Linked DNA regions of Homo sapiens. The protein of the gene in region 1 purifies or fractionates together with the protein of each later gene. This does not show direct contact. Each region holds a gene or a part of one and is shown in the gene's direction. Other genes may lie near its edges.

What was found.
Region 2: the proteins of GNS (region 1) and GLS fractionate together in Homo sapiens (co-fractionation; one large-scale study listed by BioGRID). This does not show direct contact.
Region 3: the proteins of GNS (region 1) and CAPN2 purify together in Homo sapiens (affinity purification with mass spectrometry; one large-scale study listed by BioGRID and IntAct). This does not show direct contact.
Region 4: the proteins of GNS (region 1) and PPP6R3 fractionate together in Homo sapiens (co-fractionation; one large-scale study listed by BioGRID). This does not show direct contact.
Region 5: the proteins of GNS (region 1) and CAD fractionate together in Homo sapiens (co-fractionation; one large-scale study listed by BioGRID). This does not show direct contact.
Region 6: the proteins of GNS (region 1) and GAPVD1 fractionate together in Homo sapiens (co-fractionation; one large-scale study listed by BioGRID). This does not show direct contact.
Region 7: the proteins of GNS (region 1) and UBFD1 fractionate together in Homo sapiens (co-fractionation; one large-scale study listed by BioGRID). This does not show direct contact.

Annotation. Positions count from the first base shown.
Region 1 is NC_000012.12:64,752,907-64,756,406, reverse strand, and holds part of GNS (N-acetylglucosamine-6-sulfatase precursor), read left to right. Parts: intron 1-3,500. UniProt on the Homo sapiens protein: Hydrolyzes 6-sulfate groups in N-acetyl-d-glucosaminide units of heparin sulfate and keratan sulfate.
Region 2 is NC_000002.12:190,879,321-190,883,620, forward strand, and holds the start of GLS (glutaminase kidney isoform, mitochondrial isoform 1 precursor), read left to right. Parts: upstream 1-1,500; 5' UTR 1,501-1,764; coding exon 1,765-2,150; exon of another isoform or gene 2,151-2,248; intron 2,249-2,592; exon of another isoform or gene 2,593-2,668; intron 2,669-4,300. UniProt on the Homo sapiens protein: Catalyzes the first reaction in the primary pathway for the renal catabolism of glutamine. Plays a role in maintaining acid-base homeostasis. Regulates the levels of the neurotransmitter glutamate, the main excitatory neurotransmitter in the brain.
Region 3 is NC_000001.11:223,747,039-223,750,538, forward strand, and holds part of CAPN2 (calpain-2 catalytic subunit), read left to right. Parts: coding exon 1-127; intron 128-2,000; coding exon 2,001-2,084; intron 2,085-3,500. UniProt on the Homo sapiens protein: Calcium-regulated non-lysosomal thiol-protease which catalyzes limited proteolysis of substrates involved in cytoskeletal remodeling and signal transduction. Proteolytically cleaves MYOC at 'Arg-226'.
Region 4 is NC_000011.10:68,572,252-68,575,751, forward strand, and holds part of PPP6R3 (serine/threonine-protein phosphatase 6 regulatory subunit 3), read left to right. Parts: intron 1-1,857; coding exon 1,858-1,973; intron 1,974-3,500.
Region 5 is NC_000002.12:27,227,369-27,230,868, forward strand, and holds part of CAD (multifunctional protein CAD), read left to right. Parts: intron 1-3,500. UniProt on the Homo sapiens protein: Multifunctional protein that encodes the first 3 enzymatic activities of the de novo pyrimidine pathway: carbamoylphosphate synthetase (CPSase; EC 6.3.5.5), aspartate transcarbamylase (ATCase; EC 2.1.3.2) and dihydroorotase (DHOase; EC 3.5.2.3).
Region 6 is NC_000009.12:125,264,826-125,268,325, forward strand, and holds part of GAPVD1 (GTPase-activating protein and VPS9 domain-containing protein 1), read left to right. Parts: intron 1-3,500. UniProt on the Homo sapiens protein: Acts both as a GTPase-activating protein (GAP) and a guanine nucleotide exchange factor (GEF), and participates in various processes such as endocytosis, insulin receptor internalization or LC2A4/GLUT4 trafficking.
Region 7 is NC_000016.10:23,556,286-23,560,526, forward strand, and holds the start of UBFD1 (ubiquitin domain-containing protein UBFD1), read left to right. Parts: upstream 1-1,441; 5' UTR 1,442-1,457; coding exon 1,458-1,482; intron 1,483-1,664; coding exon 1,665-1,994; intron 1,995-3,182; coding exon 3,183-3,391; intron 3,392-3,493; exon of another isoform or gene 3,494-3,583; intron 3,584-4,241. Other genes in the region: EARS2 (nondiscriminating glutamyl-tRNA synthetase EARS2, mitochondrial), read right to left, coding at 920-1,058. UniProt on the Homo sapiens protein: May play a role as NF-kappa-B regulator.

The DNA of each region.
Region 1 (3,500 bases):
TGCAGGTGACATTCGGGGATGCCAGTGACATCATGGAACTCCTTAATTTACATGTAAAACTTTGTGTATAATATCTTCATTTTTGTGGAAAGAGCTCTAACCTAAAAAAGATTACAGATTGCTGCCATAGTTGGCAAAATAAATAGTGGTTAACCCCCACCAATCTCACTCAGGTCAAAGGATTGTATATAGCATTTACAACATGATTTAGATTTATAGTGGAATTTTTCAGGCATCTTTGAAATGCTCTTTTATATAGTAGCATCGTCTTTAACATTTCATTGTATTTGTTCCAGGTATCTGTGGGACTCTGTTTTTATTTTTTATTTTGCCAGGACACTGTTCTTATCACTTTCTTGATTTTATTTAAACATCATTATAGTGTGGTGGACACACTGTTCTTCACAGAAGCATAAGCTGCTCTTTTAAAAATAATTCATGGCCGGGCGCGGTGGCTCACGCCTGTAATCCTAGCACTTTGGGAGGCCGAGGTGGACAGATCACGAGGTCAGGAGTTCAGGACCAGCCTGGCCAGCATGGCGAAACCCTAAAATACAAAAATTGGCCGGGCATGGTGGTGCGTGCCTGTAGTCCCAGCTACTCGGGAGGCTGAGGTGGGAGAATCACTTGAACCCAGGAGGTGGAGGTTGCAGTGAGCTGAGATTGTGCCACCGCACTCTAGCCTGGGTGACAGAGCAAGACTCCATCTCAAAAAAAAAAAAAAAAAATCATTTACTCTAAGAAAAGTGACATTTGGCCAAAACCACAGGCAAGTGAAAGAAGAAACTATGATGAAAGGTAGGGGAAGAATAATTTTTTTTTTTTTTTTGAGTTGGAGTCTTGCTCTGTCACCCAGGCTGGAGTGCAGTGGCGCGATCTCGGCCCACTGCAACCTCCTTCTCCTGAGTTCAAGAGATTCCCCTGTCTCAGCCTCCCAAGTAGCTGGGTTTACAGGCACCCACCACCACGCCCGGCTAATTTTTGTATTTCTAGTAGAGACGGGATTTCACCATGTTGGCCAGGCTGATCTTGAACTCTTGACCTCAAGTGATCCGCCCACTTCAGCCTCCCAAAGGGGTGGGATTACAGGTGTGAGAATAAATATGTCATTGCTTCACTGAAAGCAAAACAATTTCCATTGTTAGCCACAGAATTATCAGAATTGTCGTTTCAGAGCAACTGTGCATGGAACCAGGAAAGTAAATGATTCTTTAGGGTTTTAATGAAAAGGGTTCTGCTTGGGGTGAGTAGAGTAACATGTTTGCCCACATGAAGGCATGAAGTTGGCTGCTGCTTAAAGACTGTTGCATGGCCTTAACTTGACCAGCCACTGTCTTTGCTTCGATCTTAAGGATTCATTTTACATTCTAATTAGCATAGAGACACATGACACATTTTGAGTAGTGTGGTTTCTTGTTTGGGACTTTTTCAATTAAGCACGGATTATGGTTGTCTTTTGTACTATAGTTAGCAGTATAAAGATGGCAGTTAATAAAAACTTCTTTTTTTTTTTTTTGGAGACAAGTTCTCACTCTTCTTGCCTAGGCTAGATTGCAGTGGTGCAGTCATAGCTCACTGCAGCCTCGAACTTCTGGGCACAAACAATCCTCCCACCTCAGCCTCTTAAGTAGCTGGGACTACGGGCATGCACTACCATGCCCAGCTAATTTTTATATTTTTTGTAGAGCCAGGGTCTTGCTGTGTTGCCCAGACTGGTCTCAAACTCCTGGCCTCAAGCAGTCCTCCTGCCTCTGCCTTCTAAAGTGCTGGGATAACAGGTGTGAGCCACTGCACCGGGCCTAAAGTCTAAATTCCTATGTGGCCCTGCATCACTGACTCCTGCCTGCCTCTCTGACCTCATCTTACCTCACTCTCCCTTTTCCTCCCTAAGCTGCTTCCATCACCACACTGGCTTCTCTGTTTCCTCCCAGGTGCCTCTCTCCTTCCTCTGGCAGCCCTTGTACTTGCTATATACCCAGCCTGAAACATCTTCTGAATTTTTGCATGACTGACTCCTCATCGCATGGCTCTCCGTACTGAAGTTACCTCCTGAGAGGCCTTTTCTGACCACCCATCTAAAGTAGTTCCCCTTTCTTCCCACCAGCTGTAATCACATCATCCTGGTTTATTCTCTTCATAGCACTTACCACCACCTGAAATGACTGATTGTTTACCTGTTAGTTGTTTTAAGTCCCCAAGAGTGCAGAGATCATGAGGGCGAGGACCATCTATCCTCTGTCCACCACTGCCTAGATTAATGCCTGGCACGTGTTGTGTTTAATAAATGTTATTACACAGTCTTACTGTAAATCAGATATTCTTTCATAATTTTACATATTTATCAGACAGTTTGACAATTAAGTCCCATACAGTCAACTCTGGTCCTTTTCTCCACTTACTCTTTGAATCCTCATTTCACCTTCAAATGTCCTCACAGTAACTCAGGTGTTTTATCAAACCAATGTCTCATGAAGCCCAGTATTCTTTTCCTGAGGATGGTACCCAGTGATGCTTTGAGGAGAGTATGGCTGACGACCTTGCTTCGGAAGGCTGGCGAAGATCTTCTGCTTCTCTAGCGTCTCTTGGCAGCCTCTTCTGGATCTACTCATGAAATTATCAGAGCTTTTTTTGGATAAGTTAGAATCCTCATCCTTTTGAGTTTATGGATTCCGTAGGTTTTGTATTTATATAAAACAATGGGGAAAAGTCATTTATACATTATTGAAAATGAGGCTCCTGTTAACCTACTTATGTATTTAGATTAGCAATCTTTAAGGAATTATTGCACAACAAAATATACTTAAAACTGCATTCAATATGGTCTTAGGTTTCAAAGGTATCTCAGAATCATCGTGAACTGACCCATATTACAACTAAAATGACCTCTTCAATGGTGCTTTTTGCTGTCTGGAATCTGAAGAATATTAGTGTTCCTTTTATTCGTATTTAAATGACTGTCTTCATACTTTTGTCCTCATTCTAGAAGGAAGTTAATTGTTCTCTGTACTTGTAAGGATCTTAGATTTTGAACAAAAGATGAAAAGCAGGACATAAAATAGTTTCTGAGTAGCCTTTTGCCTGACAGTGTTCTGTGTACACCTGCTTGCCACCTGGTTCAAGTCCTTATCCTGAGGTGCTTGTGGGTCTATGCAGACAACAGTAGTTGGTAGTTGAACAGTGTGTGTCTGGCCTCCACCACTGAGTGTGTGAGGTTTGAATCAGTCTCGGAGTCCTGGGGCCTTGTCTGGCTTTCAGAATCCAACTGTTGTCTTACTTCTGTTCTATAGGGCGGAAGGCTCCCTTTATATCATTTCCCACATCCTACTTCTAAAGATTAATTCATGGAGATAGGTCTGCCCTATCTGCCTTATCTGGGCGCTGATGACTAATAAGGGCACAAAGATGTTATTGCCATCAACTGAACTTTCCCTTCCTGCAAGCATTTTGACTTCCTGCACTTTTATACAGGATGGAGCTGGCCGGAACCAAACTTGTCTCTA
Region 2 (4,300 bases), on another chromosome or scaffold:
TCACATAACCTGTAGGTACAGCCAGATTTCCTAATTATTAATCTATTGAAATATTTTACAGTTCACTAGATTACTAAATCCGGTTATCAATTAATGATGCACCTGACATACACCCTTCTAGTTTCATAAAAATCACCTCATTAGGCCGGGCGTGGTGGCTCACGCCTGTAATCCCAGCAATTTGGGAGGCCCAGGGGGTGCAGATCCCTCGAAACCAGCCTGGGCAACCTGGCGAAACCCCGTCTCTACCAAAAATACAAAAAAAAAAAAAAAAAAAAGCAGGTGCTGGCTGAGGTGGGAGGATCACCGGGGCCCCTGAGTTCAAGGCTGCAGTAAGCCGTGATCGCGCCACTGCACTTCAGCCTGGGCGACAGAGTGAGACCCTTTCTCAAAACGAACACACACAACAACACAGTAACAACACACCAACCCCCAAAACATCTTATTAAACTCTGTGGATCTACTCCATTTAAACCTAATTGTTTCAGGAAATAGTCTAAAAACATTTTTTTGTCCTGGAATGTAATGTGTATGTAGCCTCAGGGAATAACTCAGTTTATCAGGTTCTTGGCTGTTTTTCCACAGGTCCAAAAGGATAAATGGATAAAGTGATGCTGAAATAACTTAGAGAACCCGTATTCCAACGCTTCTATTTTAAAACAGTGAAGCAGTTTTTAAAATAGAAAAGTATCTACAGTTTTGCTTTCAAGCAAATAGCGTTAACGGAATCATTGCTATTCAAAACTATTTTTGAAGTATCGGTGTACATTTAAAAAAAATAATTTTTAAAAAAGAAAGCTGTCGTATTCTGGATTCCGCAACCCCCCCACCCCGCCTCGCCACTCGTCGCCCTCCCTCCACCTCCACCCTCCCATGGCTTAAGTCGCATAGCTGAAAGGATTTTGCTCATTTTTTCCAAAACACTTCACGTCTGGGTAGTAGCCAATCATGGAAAGTTTCAAGCAAATGTTACATTTGGGAGAGGGATGAAGCTTGTCCGGGGCTGCTCTCGGAGGAGTCGCCAGACGCCCTGACCTGGGGGCCAGATGCGAGCTGGGATCGGCTGAGTTCCGACAGCTCGGCCAGACTCAGCCCTGCCAAACCTGCTGACCTCACTGCCCTCGGCTGCGGGGGATCTCGCCCATGAGTCTCCCCAACAGCTCGAATTCCCAGAGTGGAGGAGCCCACTGCTTCATAAATGCGAGAACCCAGAGCCCCTAGTACCCAACTAGGCTAGCCTCGGAGTTGGCACGGCGTGCAGAAAGTGGCTACTGAGCAGCCGGGCCTGGCTCACCCGCTTCACACGTCAGTTTGACTCCTCTCCCCGCCCCCCACCAATCCCCCGCCCTACTCTCCGCGCACCCAGAGCCGAGAGAAATTTGACTGCCCTAATCGCCAATCAAAAGAGAGGTCGAGGATTTGAGCCAATCGCAGCGGGCGAAAGGGGCGGGCCGTCGGCGAGCGCTGAAGGTCTCTAGCCCTCCCCTGCGCTTTAGCCTCAGTGCGGAGCCTTAGGCGGAGCGAAGAGAACCGGTCGCGGCAATCCTAGCGCGCAGCAGCAGCAGCAGCAGCAGCAGCAGCAGCAGCAGCAGCAGCAGCACCCGCATCCGCTGCGGGAGTCCGAGCCGGAACCACACCCAAGTAGCTGCCCTTTCCTCTTCTGTCATCTCACCGCCCCACCACAGACCGCGTTCCCCGAGGAAACCGGCCGCCCACGCCCGGAGCATCCTCCCCTGTTGAGCGGGCGCTGACGGACCCGGCGGCATGATGCGGCTGCGAGGCTCGGGGATGCTGCGGGACCTGCTCCTGCGGTCGCCCGCCGGCGTGAGCGCGACTCTGCGGCGGGCACAGCCCTTGGTCACCCTGTGCCGGCGTCCCCGAGGCGGGGGACGGCCGGCCGCGGGCCCGGCTGCCGCCGCGCGACTCCACCCGTGGTGGGGCGGGGGCGGCTGGCCGGCGGAGCCCCTCGCGCGGGGCCTGTCCAGCTCTCCTTCGGAGATCTTGCAGGAGCTGGGCAAGGGGAGCACGCATCCGCAGCCCGGGGTGTCGCCACCCGCTGCCCCGGCGGCGCCCGGCCCCAAGGACGGCCCCGGGGAGACGGACGCGTTTGGCAACAGCGAGGGCAAAGAGCTGGTGGCCTCAGGTGAAAAGTGAGTGTCTCCGCGAGGCGCAGGAGGCCTCGTTCCTTTCGGGGCCCGGGCTCAGGCTGTGTGGGGCCCTGCGGTGGGGCGGGATAGGAGCCGAGGGTCTAGAAAAGAGAAAGAAAGAGGTGCCGGGCGGCCTGCGCCGTCTGCGCCATGTGATTAGGCCCGGCCCCGCCCGCGCCTTCCCCGCCCGCAACCCTCCGCCAGGCACCCACTTCCCTTCTCCGCCCCCGGCGGGGGTCGCCCTGGTGGGGCCGCGGTGGGGCCTGATGGGCTCGCCTGGCGTCCCCAGCGCCAGAGAGGCCGCTCCCCTGCCCGCGCTGCGTGCTCAGCTCCCTGGCTTGCGGCTGCAGCGCCTGGCCGCCCGCCCCAGCCATTCGTGGGCGATGCTGCACGAACATCTCCACCGAGTGACATTTAGGAGTTGGGCGTTCAGCAGAGCCTTTACCTTCCTGACTTGTCGCTTTTCCTGGCTCGTTTCCGCTCTGCCTGCCCTCCCTTGGTTTCTGCCATCATCCGGTTGGAAGCCAGATGTGACAGAGAGCTCTTTATATTTCGGGAGTGGCTACCTCAGGCACGTGTAGAGCCATCTGGGGCACCGGAAACAATGTTTCAGAAGTGAGATTAGGAGGAATCCGGTCATGTGGCCGAGAAGATGGGGCACGCAGTATAGACCACCTGTTTGCATAAGGGACCAGCTTTGGCTTGTCAGGTCTTCCGTGAGATGGGGAGATTTTTAGAAATAAAAGTTAAATAGCCAAGATGAAATGTGACGTAATACACTAACTCAGTGAAAAATCTGAGTTGAGTAGGTTTTGTGACTTCATTGTGATAGGATGTTGACTCATCCTGTATGTGTACGGCACAGTAGTTTAGTCTTAAAGCAAAACTGGTTTTTCTTAAACAATATGCAAAGCAGTCTCCTATATATTTTTGTCTTGTGTAATACAAATGGACCACTTTGTTTTCCCAAAATGGGTAAAAATTTACGGATCTGCTTTCATTATACCTTACTCTTTTTCTGGCTTTGTACGCTGACACTCTAACCTGTTTTGCTTCCCTTTTATTTCTGCTGCTATTTCCAGCTCTAGAGTTCCTTAAGTCAAACTGAAAGTGAGAACATTGTTATAATTTCAATCTCACGCCTGCTTGATGTTTTCCTGTAATTGAAGTTGGGACCTTCCAGAAACTTTTCTAAAGTTCTTCTCCCAGACTGAAAAAGATTATTTGAAAAAAATCACTTGATGATGGGCGAAATTTGTGGTATTTTGTGATGTTGGTTTTGTGCCACAAAATAGCGTCCTGACCATGGACAGGTTATTTAATATCTTGGGTTAGATGACTTAAATCCTTTCAAGTTCTAAAAAGCTATACTTCTGTTAAATTTGTACTTCTCTCATGTTTTAGGGACTAGAATGATAATTTAATCTCATCTGGGACTCACTTTTACTTTAACATCATCCGGTTTACCAAGGAAGTAACGAGTTTACATGCAAGTGCCCAAGGTACAGAATTGCAAAATGCAGTCACAACCGTTTAAAAGTTCATCTTAAAGGCTACAAGATGGGAACTGCATTCTAGTAAAATTATGTCTTCAGGTCTGTGTCTCTGCAGTGGCTCTAGTGCCTCTCTTTTTTTTCCTCTTTTGTCAAACAGGAAATTGAGCTTCTTCTGTGATTCACTTGTCCAGAAGTTTCTGGTTTCATTGCCTTTTTAATAAAAAATCACCTTTTAGCAAGGGCCTCAAGGTTGTGAAGAAAGTTTTTTAATTTGGTTAAAGTTTCTATTTCCTTAATGATCTGGTTTCCAAATGTAGCTTTCCCTCTTTGGCTCCTTTCATTTTGCCTTTATGTGACAAACATTTCTCTTATCCTGGGAGGTAAGCTCCCAGTTGATCCTGTTATCCTTTCTAATGCTTAGCCTGCAAAGCATAGGTCATCCCTCAGTCAGCAGTCCACCTGGTATGCTAGCACTCACTCAGGACTGTGCCAGATTTTATGTAGTATTATTAAAAGAAATAACCATGAGAAAATTAAATTAACATTTTGTAAAAGGCTTAGAACAATATTTGGCGTGTGTTAAATGACACATAACTATTTATTAAATAAATGAGAAAACATTGCTTCTTCATTATTGTAAAGCCTGTTAAAGAGATT
Region 3 (3,500 bases), on another chromosome or scaffold:
TGAGGGCTTCGAAGACTTCACCGGAGGCATTGCTGAGTGGTATGAGTTGAAGAAGCCCCCTCCCAACCTGTTCAAGATCATCCAGAAAGCTCTGCAAAAAGGCTCTCTCCTTGGCTGCTCCATCGACGTAAGTCCAGGCTGCCTTCCCTAGCCTCACCCCATCTGCTCTTGCTGAAGGGAGGCTCCCACAGTGCCCAAGGGAACCCACTGCTCCTGTGTACAACGTAATGCAGCCCTCGTCCACGTAGGGGCCAAAGGAAAACCTCCCTCCACCCTCTGAAGGTCCGCTGAAAATCAACTGGCAAAAGGAAGACTAATACAAGAAATGGCATACAAATGTATGAATGTGGACAGGGGAGAATCACAAGAGATTTCCCTACCACGCATTGGGATACAGAGGGTTATATTCCCTTCCTCTTAGGGGAAGGGAGATGGGGAGGTGCGGATGATTTTAGGGATGTCGTAAATGATTTTTAGGGGAATTCATTGGGCTTAAAGAACATAAATGGTCTGGGATAAAGTCTGTTGGGCCTGCAGAGCAGACAGTGGTTTGTGACAAGTCTGTCTAGCCATGTTGACAGACTTGTCTTTCTTCCTGCAATATGAGTTCAGTTCATAATAACTCATGGAAAGGACCAGACGTCATTGTTTTCATCTTTGGCAGGTCCAGACTTTAGGCAGGTGAGGGAACTTCAGAGAATAGCTTCCTCCTGTGCTTTGGGGGAGAGTGGATCGAGAGACAGAAGGAAAGGGGAGGTCAGAGAGATCTTGAGGCTTCTTCAGTTTAGCATTTCAAAGTGCCATCTCTTAGAGGTATTGGTTTCTGAGCACCCCAGTGTCTACCATTATTGCTCATCACCTGGAAGCCAAGGGTTGCTAGGCAAAAGTCAAGCTGTCTGGGGTGTAATGGATGGGGTGATGGTGCCTCCAGCCCTTCTGTCTTCAGTCCACTTCCCACTCTTAGCCTGCTCTGAATCACCCCCACCCCTCTGACCACAGGTTCCCTGGGAGCCCCTGCCACCTGCTGCCCCTGCCACCTTCCCCTCCATCTGCAGTGCTGTGCAGCCTTCCCCTGCACTCTTGCAGAGCTAATAGGCCCGTGGGAGACTTCGGAAGGAAGAGGAGGAAAGATTTCCTCATAATAGCCTTGCTGGCAACGCTCACCAGGGGATGGGAGGTGGGCACTGTGCCCAGGAGCCTTGGAGCAAAGGCTGTGCCCAACCTCTGAGCCCTGTCCCATCCAGGTTCTGGTCTCTGCGGGGGACAGAGATAAGAAGCCCTGGCTTTTGGAGCCAAAATCTAGGTCAGACTCCCTAGGCAGGAATTCTCAAAGTTTATCAGCAGAACACGTTGAGGCAGAAGACCCTTTCTGCTCCAGCCCTTCTTCCCAGGCTCAACCTTCATCAGAATAGATAGGGGAAAGGAGAGGCTGTGAGGCGTTCTTAAAACAGAAGCAAATTCTGACTCAGACCGGAATAAACAACCGTCCTAGTATAAACCCTACAGCTGGGCTGGGCCAGACCACGGAGCATGGGCTGGTGGTGGGGCGAGGGTGTGCTCAGTGTCCCTGGGCCACTCAAGGCTGTCTGGGTATCAGCCCTGCGCCATCGAGGACCCCCTCCGGCCCTCTCTCGGCCGTGCGCCCTTTCCCTGCGCCATCGAGGACCCCCTCCAGCCCTCTCTCGGCCGTGCGCCCTTTCCCGCCCTTCCCAGCCTGCAGAAATCCGTGGATGCGCTATTCACACGGGAATGCCTGTGCTCGTTCCGCGAGAGGGTTGCATTCCGCCTTTTCTCTGGTATTCTCGGCGTTCAAGCATTTGAACGGGGTAGGAAAGGTTCTCCAAGTGCAAGAAAGCGCAGCCCTGAGCCTCCCACCCCAGGCCTCGGCCGCTGCGCTAGTGCGTCCGGCGGTCCCGCCCGGCAGTAGGACAGAGGGAGCGAGGGAGTCCGGGAGGAAGGGAGAGCGGGTGCGGCCAGTCTGACGGTTGCTGTGTTTGCAGATCACCAGCGCCGCGGACTCGGAGGCCATCACGTTTCAGAAGCTGGTGAAGGGGCACGCGTACTCGGTCACCGGAGCCGAGGAGGTAACGGCCGGCGCGGATGTGCAGGGGTCCTGCTGTCCTGACACGATGGCCACAGGCACAGTTTGTGGTGATGCCCAGGGGCCCGCGCGGCCCCACGGTGGTCCAGTTTACACTCGGGCCCCGCACTCCTGAAGTTCCGCGCGGGAGGAGAAGGGCGTCCCTTTCGCAGCTCGGGCGCCGGGTGCGCCGCGCTGCCACCTGGTGGCCGCAGTGGCCGGCGCCAGGGGCCCTGGTTTTACTTGTTTTAGATGTTACCCTGTTTTACAGTTACAACCTTACTATTTTGATAAGCTAAAAATAATAAAACAATGCATCTTCATAGTGTTTTATACTCTATAAGGTGCTTTCTCTTTTGATCTCGTAAAAGTATTCGTGCCCATGTTCAAATCTGACTGCCTCTTACCAGCTGTGTGGCCTGGGCCAATTACTGGAACTCTCTGTCCCTTAGTTTCCTCATTTAAAAAATGGAAATAATGATAATATCCATTGGAAGGTCGTGGCGATTCAATCAAGTTAATATATGTAAAGTGCTCAGAGGTGACTCACACATCATATATAAGGAGGTAGCTGTCCTTGCTGTTGTGATCACTGTTGTTATTGAAAATATTATGGGCTGACATGGTGGCTCACACCTGAAATCCCAACACTTTGGGAGACCGAGGTGGGAGGATCACTCGAGCCTAGGAGTTCAAGACCAGCCTGGGCAACGTAGCAAGAACCTGTCTCTACAAAAAAAAGTTAGCTGGGCATGGTGGCATGCCACTGTCGTCCCAGCTACTCGGGAGGCTGAGGTGGGAGGATCACTTGAGCCCAGGAGGTCGAGGCTGTAGTGAGCCATGATCATGCCATTGCACCCCAGCCTCAGCGACAAAGTAAGACCATGTCTCAAAAAAAAAATTATCAAGCAACTCAAGTTCACTGTTAATTACAGAACCCAGTCTAGACCGCAGATCTTCTGCATGTCCAGTGTTCTTTTTTTAACCTTGATTTTTTTAACTACCCCCTCACACACACACGTCTTTTTATTTGAAAATTTTCACGTATACAGAAAAGTTGAAAGACTAACATAATAACTATCCAATTGCCACTCCCCTAGATTCACCGATTGCTAACATTTGCCATGTCTGCTTTATCTATGTGTGCACTTTTTTTGAGCCATATGAAAGTAAGTTGCAGACGTTATGACACTTCCCTCCTCAATACTTCAGCATTTATTCCCTATGAATAAGGACATTCTGTTACATAATTCCTCTACTGTTGCCACACCTAAGAAAATAACATTAATTCAGTAGTGTCATCTATTATAAAGTCTATACTAACATTTTCCCAGTTGCCCAAAATGTCCTTTCTGGCGACCCACCCCAACCCCATCCAGGACTCAATCCAGATTCACTCACTGCATGTGCCTGTTATCAC
Region 4 (3,500 bases), on another chromosome or scaffold:
CTGCCTCCTCATCTGGCCAGGGCTCAGATATCCTTTGTGCCCTGCTCTCCTGGTGAGTCCCGTTTTCTGGAGGCCTGGTGAATACCATTCCCTCTGTCTAGGGGGATCCCGAAAGAACTTTCCTTGTTTCCTTGCACAACAGCCTGAAGCAGTTTGAAGCTGTGGGTCACCTTAGAGATGGGCCTTTGTTTTCTTTCACTTGTGTACTTGAGGGTGTGCAGAAGAGTGACTCAGTTGCCTGTAGGTAACACCTGGCTCTCTGGATCTTACTGAAGAACTAAAAGAGACTCTGAGCAACTCAGTGAAGATTGACTCTGGCCAGGCACGGTGGGAGATGCCTGTAATCCCACTGCTTTGGGAGGCTGAGATGGGAGGATTGGTTGAGGCCAGGGGTTCGAGACCAGTCTGGACAACATAGGGAGATCCTGGCTCTACAAAAAATTAGCCGGATGTGGTGGTACTTGCCTATAGTCCCAGCTACTCAAGAGGCCGAAGTGAGAGAATTGCCTGAGCCCAGGAGTTTGAAGCTGCAATGAGCTGTGATTGCACCACTGCACTCCAGCCTGGATGACAAGCAAGACCTTGTCTCTACCTAAATAATCAACCCTGTACTTCTTACCCTTAGGCACCCCCAAGCCCTCTAAGATTCTCTAGCAGATACTTTATTTTCCAAGCAAGCCTTCAAGCATAGGATGTTTTTTTTTTCTTATTGCTCCTGAAAGGCTTTTCTCTCTCTAAGCAAAAATCTCTGCAGTGTTTGTTCCCTGCTATCTGCAGTCAAAAATCTTTCGTTTGATAGAGCTTAAAATCTTGGCACTTTGTAAATAGGTAGAGAAATCAGATTAATATGAGTTTACTTATTTTATATATATATATATATATATATATATATATATATATATAATTTTTTTTTTTTTGAGACGGAGTCTTATTTTGTCACCCAGGTTGGAGTGCAGTAGCACAATCCTGGCTCACTGCAGTCTCTGCCTACCGGGTTCAAGAAATTTTCCTGCCTCAGCCTCCTGAGTAGCTAGGATTTCAAGTGTGCACCACCACGCCTGGCTAATTTTTGTATTTTTAGTAGAGATGGGGTTTTGCCATGTTGCCCAGGATGGTCTCAAACTCCTGACCTCAAGTGATCCACCTGTGTTGGCCTCCCAAAGTGTTGGGATTACAGGCGTGAGCCACTGTGCCTGGCCTGATACGAATTAAGTGTAAAGATTGATCATGGTTGGGAAGATGAGACCTTAAATGGGAAAAGGACAAAGACTGTTTGTTTGCATGTGTTCAGAATGGTGTATGGTCAAGTACTAGTTGACTGTCTCCTATCTTGGCCAAGTCTCACATCAGCTAATATCTTAACTTGAGACATGTCATTGGTAGATAATTATTTCTATTCATTGATATAATAAAAATTTGCTATCTTTTAAGAAAATGAACCAGCAGAATTCTTACCTCAGTTCCTTATAATCTGATTAAGGTTTGAAAAAGTTTCATTAAAAAGATGTAAAATAAAATCACAATAACATTAGGCATCAGAGAAGGTTTATTTGATCTTTTAAAAAATAATGTGTTATTGACAGTGAGTGATGATTTTTGAGATTCGAATAAACTGTGGCCTGTTGACTGAGGCTGCCATATAATCTTTTACAATTTCACACCCCTCCCTGACCATGCTGCATGGTCATATTCTGGCACCTTCCATTCCTTTGTTTTTCTTTTCTTTTCTGTCCATCGTCATTTTCTTCAGTGCCTTCAGGGTTTAAAATGATTGTTTAAAAGTCCGCAGTATTTACCGAGTGTTTCATCACTTCATCCTATCAGGAATCTGAGTATTTGTCCTTTACCTCTTGTCAGGGCTGAGGGAGGAAGACGGCATGGTTACATGGGACACCTAACGAGGATAGCTAACTGTATCGTGCACAGCACTGACAAGGGCCCCAACAGTGCATTAGTGCAGCAGCTTATCAAAGGTAAGTTATTTGTGAAATTTGAATTACATTTTTGTTGGGTTGCAGGAAGGATTTAAGGGTCAAGTAGAAATGCATGTAGCATTTTTAATAGTGATTTGTGGGACTTCTTTATATTTGGCAAATTATGTATTTGAATGAGGTTCTTGAGAATGTGTTTGAACAGTGTTGTTTTTTGGTTGTATTTATGTTCATGTAGTTACAGACCATTCCATAAGCATTGGCAGGCTTGGCTGGATTCAGCATATAAGAGTCACCTATTGTCATTCTTAAAGAGCATTGCTTGGTGAATCATGCTTTTGAGTATTGTGAGTGTGAAGTACTCATATGCTAGCAGTTGAGCCACTTCAGCTATAATTTTGCCTTTTATTTTCTGAAGGCCTCTATATAGCCTCTGAATTAAGTTTCTTTAACTGGAATATTAGGGCATTTATCAGCATTTCTTTGATGTCGCTGTCACTAAAATGAGGGGTATTGGCTTCTAAAGGACTCTTTCTGTATAGCATTTCAGTTTAATCAGCCCAAGCTTATTTGGAAGAAACTATATGGATGCTTTTTTACACTGGCCCCAAGCCATGAGCCTTCTTCTAAAATGAGAGAACTGTGTACTCTGGGTTTTTGTACCAACAGGATTACCAATCCTGAGACCTATTCTGAATGTGAACAGTCTTTAACATCCATGGTACAGAATTTGTTCAGTTAAAATCATTTCCCAGTGGGTCTTCCATTTTTTCTTAAGAATGTTTGTTTGTTCAAGAGGCTATTCCCTGTTGAATGTGCACTAAAACCACAGTTGTCACCAGGGATGGAAAAAGTGGTGTGTGCCCACTTCTAATTTTGCTTCTTGAGAGAGGCATAAGAGGTATAAGCCTCTTCCTTGGGCCATTTCACCACACAGTTTATCTTTATGTCCTAACTAAGAAGAAATGGCCATGTGATATGACTGAGTTTTTAGATCAGACTTTCCTTTATGGAAGCTGCTTGCCAGGTGGTACATGTGTACACTTCTGTGAGTGTGCACACATGCATGGCTGTTTTAAACCAGAATTATCAGATGACTAGTTAGGCCTCTAAAATTACGTCATGGTTTGATTTTCTCAGAAAAGCAGTTGTTTATCCTTTTCTTTAACATTTCTCTAGAAGGTAGAATTTCACTATTACCTGTGTATCCACGTTGGCCCATGACACAAATATTTAGGAAACATGATCTTAGAGCAATTTGAAAAGCCATACTAGGTTCTGTGGAACATTCATTGGCCAGCTGCCAATGAGAGCATTTCAAGAAAGTGTGCAGGAGCTGTCATTTGCAGCATTTTCTAGACTTAACTTGACCATGGAAAAAGATCCCCCTACCCCCGACACGTTAAACACCTACCACCTTTCTCAGAAAAGCTTGTTGGAAACACACTTTCCAGGTTAAGCTTCTACCAGAGCATTTTCAGAAACTTGTTAAGTTCACAAGCTACCTTAGGGCTCTTGGCCTCATCAAGCCTATACCATTGGGTAGGGGGATTCTGGTTCCTGAAAGTC
Region 5 (3,500 bases), on another chromosome or scaffold:
AGTATGTTTCTTTGTGGTATCCCTTTAGTTGCCGAAGACCGTCCTCTAACACATTTCAACCAAAACAAAAATATACGTGTACCAGACACAGCGCCACCAGCCTGATGGATAAGAGCATTTTGTGGTGCTCCAGATTTCCATTTAGAGCAGTAGTGGCCTTTAAACAAGTAAGTCTAAGCTCAGATATTATTTCAGAATTTTTAGAAATTCTGCAAGACTGCCAATTTTTTCCTTCTGGAGATGAATCTCTGTTATATGAAAATTAGAATAAACATGGGAATGAAGCCATAATTAAATTGTGGCAAAAAGAAGTGGATTGAAAATAGGCCAATGAAAGATTGGTTCCTAGATGAGACATTTAATTGTTTTACATCTGTTCAAGTATTCTTGGAATGTGGTCTTCTTTGGTAACTTTTTGTAACTTTTATTATACAAGTAAGAAACATGAATCATGGAAAACGAGGAAAGATAGTTTAACCAAAGAACAGTAGTCACCTGTAATCTTGCCTTACAGAGATTGATTAATTCGACCGTGTATCTGCGACTGCATAATTCAGCCGTGTATCTACGACTGCATACATTTCTAGGCATATGTGTATGCATGTATTAGGCTTCTCCTTTTTTAACAAATCTCAAAATAAAAAGTCTTACAACCACAGTTACAAAGAAATTGAACAAAATCAGTCACACTACTGTTAACATCGTAGTGTTTTTAAAACTTTTTTAAAGAAATGTAAATGTTAGGATTGTAAATAGAAAAATACACTTGGTAAGAAATACTTAAGCCCCTAGAGTAAATAGTCAGAGGAGATGAACAACACTTTACAGAAGAAGAAATCAATAAGCAAACCTAGAGAAAAGACGGTTCCTCTCATTAGTAAATAGAAATCTAGTTAAATGAGACTCTGTTTATGCCCACTTCTTAGAAGGTTGCTTAAACTTTGTATTATGAAGCACAGACTTCTATAAAGTTATTCGTACTCATCAAGGGCTATAAAATTTGTGTTACCTATTGCCTCTACATATCTGGAAATTTATCCTAAGGAGATTATCCAAAACAGAAAACATCATATCCAGTCCAGGCACGGTGGTTGTAATTAATCCCAGCACTTTGGAAAGCTCAGGTGGGAGGATCGCTTGAGCCCACGAGTTCAAGGTTGCAGTGAGCTGTGATTGTACCACTGCATTCCAGTCTGGGTGCCAGGCTAAGACCCTGTCTTTTTTGTTTGTTTGTTTGTTTGAGACGGATTTTCATTCTTGTTGCCCAGGCTGGAGTGCAATGGTGTGATCTCGGCTCACCACAATCTCTGCCTCCTGGGTTCAAGTGATTCTCCTGTCTCAGCCTCCAGAGTAACTGGGATTACAGGCATGTGCCATCACGCCTGGCTAATTTTGTATTTTAATAGAGACAGGGTTTCTCCCTGTTGGTCAGGCTGGTCTTGAACGCCCGTGCTCAGGTGATCCACCCACCTTTGGCCTCCCAAAGTGCTGGGATTACAGGCCACTGTGCCTGGCCGAGACCCTGTCTCTTTTTTCTTTTCTTTTTTTTTTTTCTTTTTTTTTTTTTTTGAGGCAGAGTCTTCCTCTGTCGCCAGGCTGGAGTGCAGTGGTGCTATCTCGGCTCACTGCAACCTCTGCCTCCCAGGTTCAAGCGATTCACCTGCCTCAGCCTCCTGAGTAGCTGGGACTACAGGCGCGCACAACCACGCCCAGCTAATTTTTGTATTTTTAGTAGAGACGGGGGTTTCATCATACTGCTTAGGATGGTCTCGATCTCTTAACCTCGTGATCCGCCTGCCTCGGCCTCCCAAAGTGCTGGGATTACAGGCATGAGTCACCATGCCCGGCCGACCCTGTCTCGTTAAAAAAGAAAGAAAACATCACAGCCTAACTTATAATTATGAAAACTTTTTTTTTTAATACGGAGTTTTATTCTGTCACCCAGGGTGGAGTGCAATGGTGTGACTTAGCTCACTGCAGCTTGGATCTTCTAGGCTTAAGTAATCTCCCACCCCATCCTTCTGAGGAGTGAGACTACAGGTGTACACCACCACACCTTGCTAATTTTTTTTTTTAATTATTATTTGTAGAGAGGGAGGTCTCACTATGTTGTGCCGGCTGGTCTCAATCTGCCTTAGGTGATCCTTCTGCCTCAGCCTTCCAAAGTGTTGGATTACAGGTGAGAGCCACCAGGACTGCCTAATTGTAAACACTTAAAAGCGAAATGGGCCGGGCGCGGTGGCTCATGCCTGTAATCCCAGCACATTGGGAGGGTGAGGTGGGCATATCATGAGGTCAGGAGTTTGAGACTAGCCTGGCCAATATGGTGAAACCCCATCTCTAGAAAATATACAAAAATTAGCTAGGCATGGTGGCACGCACCTGTAGTCCCAGCTACTCAGGAGGCTGAGGCAGGAGAATCGCTTGACCTCAGGAAGCAGAGGTTGCAGTGAGCTGAGATTGCACCACTGACTCCAGCCTGGGCAACACAGTGAGACTACGTCTCAGAAAAAAAAAAAAAAAAAAAGCTAAATGTCCTTCAGTTAGTAGTTAAATTATGGCAGATCATACAAGAATTAAGTTAGTTGGTTGGGCGCAGTGGCACACGCCTGTAATCCCAGCACTTTGGGAGGCCGAGGCAGGTGGATCACCTGAGGTTGGGAGTTCGAGACCAGCCTGGCCAACATGGTGAAACCCCGTCTCTACTAAAAATACAAAAATTACCCAGGCATGGTGGCAGGTGCCTGTAATCCCAGCTACTTGGGAGGCTGAGGCAGGAGAATCACTTGAACCCAGGAGGCACAGGTTACACTGAGCTGAGATCATGCCATTGCAGTCCAGCGTGGGTGATGAGAGAAACTCCGTCTCAAGAAAGAATTAAGTTGGTGTTGATGAGGCCATGTGGCAATGTGGGAAAATGTATGATGAGGAAAAAACACAGGATGGAAATTATATGTATGCTGTGATGATATGTAAAACATACCTATGAAGGGCCCGGCACGGTGGCTCACGCCTGTAACCCCAGCACTTTGGGAGGCCGAGGCGGGTGGATCACGGGGTCAGGAGTTTGAGACCAGCTTGGCCAACATGGTGAAATCCCGTCTCTAATTAGCCAGACATGGTGACACGCACCTGTAATCACAGCTACTCAGGAGGCTGAGGCAGGAGAATCTCTTGAACCCAGGAAGCAGAGGTTGCAGTGAGTCGAGACCGTGCCATTGCATTCCAGCCTGGGCAACAAGAGCGAAAGTCCATCTAAAAAAAAAAAACCTATGAACCTATGAAGAAAAGTCCAGAAAGAGAAACTCTAAAATGATTGTTGTAAATGTGATTTGCTCTGCATGGATGAGTAGTAAGGATCATCTTCCTATTATCTACACTTTTTTAAAAAGTTTTAAAGAATTCCAGTTGGTGTTATGATTATGTGAATAAATCAAACCCAATAACTGGACAGCCATCAGTGGTTTGGGCCACTGTGATAAACTTCCAGTATCCAGTGT
Region 6 (3,500 bases), on another chromosome or scaffold:
CTCCTGCCTCAGCCTCCCAGGTAGCTGGGACTACAGGTGCTGCCACCATGCCTGGCTAATTTTTGTATTTTTAGTAGAAACGGGGTTTCACCATGTTGGTCAGGCTGGCCTCGAACCTCCTGACCTTAAGTGATCTGCCCGCCTTGGCCCCCCAGAGTGCTAGGATTATTGGCGTGAGCCACCGCGCCTGGCCATCTTACATTTTTTAAAAGACAAAAAATTATTTCCCAGCACTATGTTGTGCTTTTGTGAGCATTTGGTTTCATATGGGGACTAATCATTCTTAGTACATGCTGCCATATAGGTTTGATTATTCATCATTTTGTATGAGGTAATAAAAGGGAAAGTCTGTAAGTGAAGTTCTTGTTTTGCTGAGGTTCTTTTACCTTTTACTGTGTGATCCTAGGTTGTTTTATTTCTCTTCATTCTTCTTCCTTCTTTCTTCTTCCTTCTTTTTTTTTGAAACAAGGTCTTGCTGCATTGCCCAGGCTGGACTTGAACTCCTGGACTTGAGTGATCCTCCTGCCTCAGCCTTACCAAGTAGCTAGGACTATAGGTCGGCACCACCACACCTGGCATTGTTTCTTTTTCTGTTCTTCTTTCTGAGAGGGAGTCTTACTTGTCTCCCAGGCTGGAGTGCAGTGGTGTAATCTTGGCTCACTGAAACCTCTGCCTCCCGGGTTCCAGCGATTCTCCTGCCTCAGTCTCCCTCCTGGGCTGGGACTACAGGCGGGTGCCACGATGGCTGGCTAATTTTTGTATTTTTTTGTAGAGACGGGGTTTCACCATATTGGCCAGGCTGGTCTTGAACTCCTGACCTCGTGATCTGCCCACCTCGGCCTCCCATAGTGCTGGGATTACAAGTGTGAGCCACCGCGCCCGGCCAAAAAAAAAATTTCATGTCTGACGATATCAAATGTTGGTGAAGATGTGGCAAAAATGGTAATTTTGAAACTACTGGCCAGGCGTGGTAGCTCATGCCTATAATTTTAGCACTTTTGGAGTTTGAGGGCCACTTGAGTCCTTGAACCCGGGAGTTCAAGACCAGCCTGGGCCTCAAAGTGAGACCCCTGTCTCTATTAAAAAAGAAAAAATTTATAAAAAAAAAAAAAAAAAGAAACTGCTACCGGTTACTGTTAGGAGGAGGAAAAAAAAACTGTTGGTTGAGTGTAAACTGGTATAGCTGCTTTTGAAGACAGTATTTGCAGCCCTTAGTAAAGTTGAAGATAGGCGTACTCTATAATTTCACGTCTATAAGGGATTATGAATGGGAGGTAGTGGCAAAGGGGATGATATCTATAATTTTTTTTTTTTTTTTGAGGTGGAGTTTTGCTCTTGTTGCCCAGGCTGGAGTGCAAATGCGCGATCTCGGCTCACTGCAATCTCCGTCTCCCGGGTTCCAGCATTTCTCCTGCCTCAGCTTCCCGAGCAGCTGGGATTATAGGCATGCACCACTATGCCCGGCTAATTTTTATTTTATTTTATTTTATTTTATTTTTTTTTTTTTAGACGGAGTCTCGCTCTGTCGCCCAGGCTGGAGTGCAGTGGCGTGATCTTGGCTCACTGCAAGCTCTGCCTCCCGAGTTCACGCCATTCTCCTGCCTCAGCCTCCCAAGTAGCTGGGACTACAGGCGCCCGCCACCATGCCCAGCTAATTTTTTGTATTTTCAGTAGAGACGGGGTTTCACCATGTTATCCAGGATGGTCTTGATCTCCTGACCTTGTGATCCACCTGCCTCGGCCTCCCAAAGTGCTGGGATTACAGGCGTGAGCCACCGCGCGCAGCCCGTTATCTATAATTTCTTTTGAGGATATCTATACTTTTTTTTTGAGACTAGACACTACTGTGACAACAGCTAATTCTGGGAGGCAGAATATACGTGCTAAATTATTATTTGTATCTTTCCCTATTTTCTGCTGTTCGTTTTGTTTTTTTCTTTTTGTTTGTTTTTTGAGACAGAGTCTTGCTCTGTGGTCCAGGCTGGAGTGCAGTGGCGCCATCTCAAGTCACTGCAACTTCCCCCTCCTGGGTTCAAGAGATTCTCCTGCCTCAGCCTCCTGAGTAACTGGTACTATGGGCACGTGCCACCACACCTGGCTAATTTTTTGTATTTTTAGTGGAGATGGGGTTTCACCATGTTGGCAAGCCTGGTCTTGAACTCCTGTGATCCGCCTGCCTCGGCCTCCCCAAAGGGCTGGGATTACAGGCATGAGCCACTGTACCCGGCAGGCTTTGTTTTTTTGTAATCCATAACTTCTAAATATTGTTTTTGCAACTCTTTGAAAAATTGTAAGCCTACAGAAGGGTTGTTCAGTAAACATTCATATACCCTTCACCTAGATTTGCTGTTAACATTTTGCCATGTTTACTTTACACATAGAAGATGCACATTTTACTTTGGGAATCCGAGACGGTCAGATTACTTGAGCCTAGGAATTTGAATTTTGAGGCAAGGTCTTGCTCTGTTGTCTAGGTTGGAGTTCAGTTGCGCTATCAGGGATCATTGCAGTCTCGACCTCCTGGGCTCAAGCTGTCCTCCCACTTCAGTCTCCTGAGTAGGTTGGGATGTGCTACCACACCCGGTTAATTAATTTTAGTTTTTTATTTTTTGAGATGGAGTTTCACTCTTGTTGCCCAGGCTGGAGTACAATGGCACAATCTCAGCTCATCGCAGTTTCTGCCTTCTGATTCTCCTGCCTCAGCCTCGCGAGTAGCTGGGATTACAGGCATGTGCCACCATGCCCAGCTAATTTTGTATTTTTAGTAGAGACGGGGTTTCACCATGTTGATCAGGCTGGTCTTGAACTCCTGACCTCAGGTGAACTGCCCGCTTCGGCCTCCCAAAGTGCTGGGATTACAGGGGTGAGCTACCATGCCTGACCAATTAAAAAAAGAATTTTTTTTTTATTGGGAAGACAGGATCTCCCTATGTTCCTCAGGCTGGTCTCAAACTCCTGGGCTCAAGCAATCCTCCCACCTTGACCTCCCAAAGCTTTGGGATTACAGGCGTGAGCCACTATGCCTAGCTGCTAGAATTTAAAATAAACTTTATTCGGCCAGGCACAGTGGCTCACACCTGTGATCCCTGCATTTTGGGAGACCGAGGCGGGTGGATCACCTGAGGTCAGGAGTTTGAGACCAGCCTGGCCGACATGATGAAATCCCATCTCTACTAAAAATACAAAAAATTAGCTGGGCGTGGTGGCTCGCGCCTGTAATCCCAGCTACTCAGGAGGCTGAGGCAGGAGAATCGCTTGAACCCAGGAGGCTGGGGTTGTAGTGAGCCGAGATCACGCCACTGCACTCCAGCTTGAGCAACAAGAACAAAACTCTGTCTCAAAAAAAAACAACAACAAACAAACAAACAACCCCCCCCCCCAAAAAAAAACCAAGAACTTTATTCTACTGGTGCTTTCTTAGCCACCGTCACAATGTTGTCACTTCTCACTTTACGCAGCTGGCTCCACTGAGGGTTTGTGAGCTGGTCTCCAGTGATGGC
Region 7 (4,241 bases), on another chromosome or scaffold:
AGCTTGCTAAGCTCCCAACAGCACTAGCACAGTGCCTTGGTACCTGCGATTTCCTCTACCCAGAAGGTTCCTTCTTTTTTGTTTTTGAGACACAGTTTCGCTCTTGTTGCCCAGGCTGGAGTGCAATGGCGCGATCTTGGCTCACCGCAATCTCCACCTCCTGCGTTCAAGCGATTCTCCTGCCTCAGCCTCCCAAGTAGCTGGGATTACAGGCATGCGCCACCATGCCCAGATAATTTTGTATTTTTAGTAGAGACAGGGCTTCACCATGTTGGTCAGACGGCTCTCAAGTGATCCACTTGACCTCAAGTGATGCACCCACCTCTGCCTCCCAAAGTGCTGGGATTACAAGCGTGAGCCACCGCGCCTGGCCTCCAGAAGGTTCCTTCTATAGGCTTCACATAGCGTGCTCCTTCTTGTCATTTGGATCTCAGCTCAAATGTTACCTGCTCAGTAAAGCCTTCTGGAGCGTCCTTCTTAATCCCCAGTCTCCTATCCTGTTTCACTTCCCGCATGGCACATGTGACTCTAAAATTACACTTATTTTTTATAAGTGTCTGCGGCAGCCACTAGAATGCAGACTTCCACAGAGCAAGGCCCCTACCTTTCTCAATGATCACTGTATCCCAGCGTCTACAACACCTGTTACACAGGTTGTCATCAATGCACATGTATGGAATGCATGAAAAAAAGATCGAAAGAGATGGGATGGCACAAAAAACACAAGAAACTCCTGGCAATTTGAATTATTTCCGCTCCTGCACCTCAGTTTCCGCCTCTGTAAAATGGGCTCGCGCTGCCTTAACCCTCCTCCGCCCGCCCACTCTGACACCACCGGAAAGGATTCATTCGGGAACATTCGTGGGGCGGAGACGGGACAGGGGGCCTCGGCCTGTAGCGTCACGTCCGCCAGGGTTACCTGTGGGGCTGGGAGCGAACCGCACTCGCACCGCAACCCCGGCATCAGTGCCCAGGTTGGCCTCGCGCCGTCCTACGGGGCGGCCAGAGGCCGCCGAAGGCCTCTCGCGCTGCAGCAGTCTCCTCAGGAGCGCCGCCATGTGGGATGGAATAGCACACGTGGGCTTCTCCCTGCGTCACTTCCGGGGACTGCTTCCAGCCAATCGGCCTCCGCCACAGCCAGCGCAGCCTTGCCCCTTAAAGTCACAGGCCCCCTAGCGCGAAATCCCACGCCCCCCTGGACGGCTGCGGCCGCACTCGCCACCAGGGGGCAGAGGCCAGAGAAAGGGCTATTTCCCGGACCCGCCCCCTTCAGCTTGGGAAAGCGAAAGCGTGGCAGGGGCCGGACCTGGGAGCGGAGGAGGCGGGTCTCCATAGAAACCTCCACCTGTTTCCGGCCGGGCTGTGAGAGATTAGGGGCTGCTGCGGGGGCCAATCTCAGCCAGCTCGCCTCTTCCCAGCGGCCTCTGCGGGAGCGGTGGGTGTTGTACACAATCATCATGGCGGCGGCCGGGGCCCCGGATGGTGAGTGCGGCGGGGGTGGCGGGCGCCGGGCCGGGGCTGAGGTTGCGGTCGCTCCTCTGGGGGATGCGGCCCGGCCCGGGAGGGAGAACCGCGGCTCGGGAACGGAGGTCCGGCGGCGCCCGGACAGCGTCCGTTCCCAAGCCCAGCCCGCGGCGAGCGCCCACCCCCTAACCCCCTTGCAGGCATGGAGGAACCTGGCATGGACACGGAGGCCGAGACTGTGGCTACTGAGGCTCCCGCGCGGCCCGTCAACTGCCTGGAGGCTGAAGCCGCGGCGGGGGCGGCGGCCGAGGACTCCGGCGCCGCACGAGGCAGCCTGCAGCCGGCCCCGGCCCAGCCCCCTGGGGACCCCGCAGCCCAGGCCTCGGTCAGCAACGGCGAAGACGCGGGCGGCGGCGCGGGCAGGGAGCTGGTGGACTTGAAGATCATCTGGAATAAGACCAAGCATGACGTGAAGTTCCCCCTGGACAGCACAGGCTCCGAGCTGAAACAGAAGATCCACTCGATTACAGGTAATTCCTGTGGCGCTGACAGCCAGTCTTCCCCACCCCGCCTCCTGATGGCCCTTGCACCCTACTAGGCACCTGGTGGCTTTCCTTGCATCAGGTCCCCCCATCCTTACAGCAGTCTTCTGAAGGATACTTGGATGCCCATTACTCAGCTGGGGAAAGAGACTCAAGTTTATAGAGCTAGTAAGTTGCAGAGCTGGGATTAAAGCCGAAGTCTGACGTTTAGGCCCCAGTTTCTCATTGATGTTGCTCTAACATCTCTAATTAAAAAATCACCTAAGGCGCTTGTTTTACAGCTTCTGGGCCCTTTCCCAGGAGATTCTGATTCAGTGGGTCTGGGATGTAGCCAGGAATTTATTTTTAGCAAATATCTTAGGTAATTCTTCTAAGTGAAGTTTAGGAAACGCTGCTATTGACTTTGATGCTGGTTCTTCACAGTCGATTCTGTTTCTTAATTTTACCTTGTTCATAGCTCTTTGCCATCTGAGATTTCTTTTCTTTTTCCTATTTTTTTTTTTTTTTGAGACGGAGTCTTGCTCTGTTGCCCAGGCTGGAGTGTACTGGCACCATCTTGGCTCACTGCAGCCTCCGCCTCCCAGGTTCAAGCGATTCTCCTGCCTCAGCCTCCCGAGTAGCTGGGATTACAGGTGCCCGCTACCCCGCCGGGCTAGTTTTTTTTATTTTATCCACCCACCTCGGCCTCCCGAAGTGCTGGGATTACAGGCATAAGCCATCACTCCTGGCCTTGAACTTTTTTTTTTTTTTAAAGCTTTCTACATGTAGCCTTGTAATCTCCATTAAGAACAGGAGTTTTGTCCCTATTGGCTTCTGTAGCTCTGATGCCTGTGGATTCTCACTTAATATGTGAATGATTTAGATGACTGAGGAACAACTTGGAAAGAATGAGAGCTAGTACTTACTGAACAATTATTCAATGCTAGCCACCGTACTAAATGCCCCGCATTGGTCTCTTAATCCTTGAAACAGGTCTGTACAGAAGGACTTACTCTAATAAATCTTCTACAGTTCTAGAAACTGAGGTTCAGAGGTTGTAAATCTCCCAAGTTCACAAAGCTAATAGGTGGTGGAGGCAGTATTCACTTTTTGGTCTGTTACCAAAGAGCTGTGTAGTATCCATACATTTTTCTGTCCTTCCTTCCTTTCACTGTCCACCTTCTACCTTTTCCCAAGGTCTCCCGCCTGCCATGCAGAAAGTCATGTATAAGGGACTCGTCCCCGAGGATAAAACATTGAGAGAAATAAAAGTGACCAGTGGGGCCAAGATCATGGTGGTTGGCTCCACCATCAATGATGTTTTAGCAGTAAACACACCCAAAGATGCTGCGCAGCAGGATGCAAAGGCCGAAGAGAACAAGAAGGAGCCTCTCTGCAGGCAGAAAGTGAGTCCATCTTGTGCTTCTTGGTCTTGAGAAATTTGAGGCTTTGTCCTCTTGAGCCGTGGCTGGTTATATTCTCCCTAGAATAAGCTCCTTTTTGGACAGGGCCCATGATGGAAATTTATGGCAGCAGTTGGGTGCCGCAGAGTGGAGGTGACAACTACCTGAGATTTGCAACTTTGTCTCATCTGGCGGGTCAGTGTGTCTCAAGTCTACCTACTTTAGGATAAGACCTTGGTAAAGGGAGGCTTCAGACCATGTGTTGAAAGGAATCAGACGTGGGTTTCTCTCTCTTATTTAGTGCCAGAGAAAACTACCAGTACTAGAAGTAAGCCCTCATTTTGTACAAGTGCTTACATTTGGCTTTTTGGTTTGTGGCTTTCCCCAAGTCAACAAGCCTGGCTAGGCATGGAAATCAACAACTCTCGGAGGTTCCCCTAAAGCTGACCGTTTCAGGAAGCTAAATGAAGCTGAGTAGGAAGACAACTACACTGATGGATTTGTTTATTTATTTTTTTGTCCTGATCTGTGAAATAGGAGCTTGGTTTTTTACGTTCTCTGTTCTTTTGGCTGCAAGAGATCCTGCCTTGTCTTGTGCTCATCATAGCCATTAACATTCTTTCACGTAACGAGGAAAAGTGAGATTATTTTACTATGGAAGGAACAGGTTGTAAGAATCATTACTTGTTATCTTTTTACCTGGCAAATTATACTGATTGCTGTGTAGCCTCCTGATCGTTCTTCCTAGTGTTCCAAGGAAGACAGGTATTCTCAACTGTGTCTGAAGTAGAGTAGATAAACTTCAATCAACATCATTTAGTGACCATAGACACTAAGATATATGACCAACAGT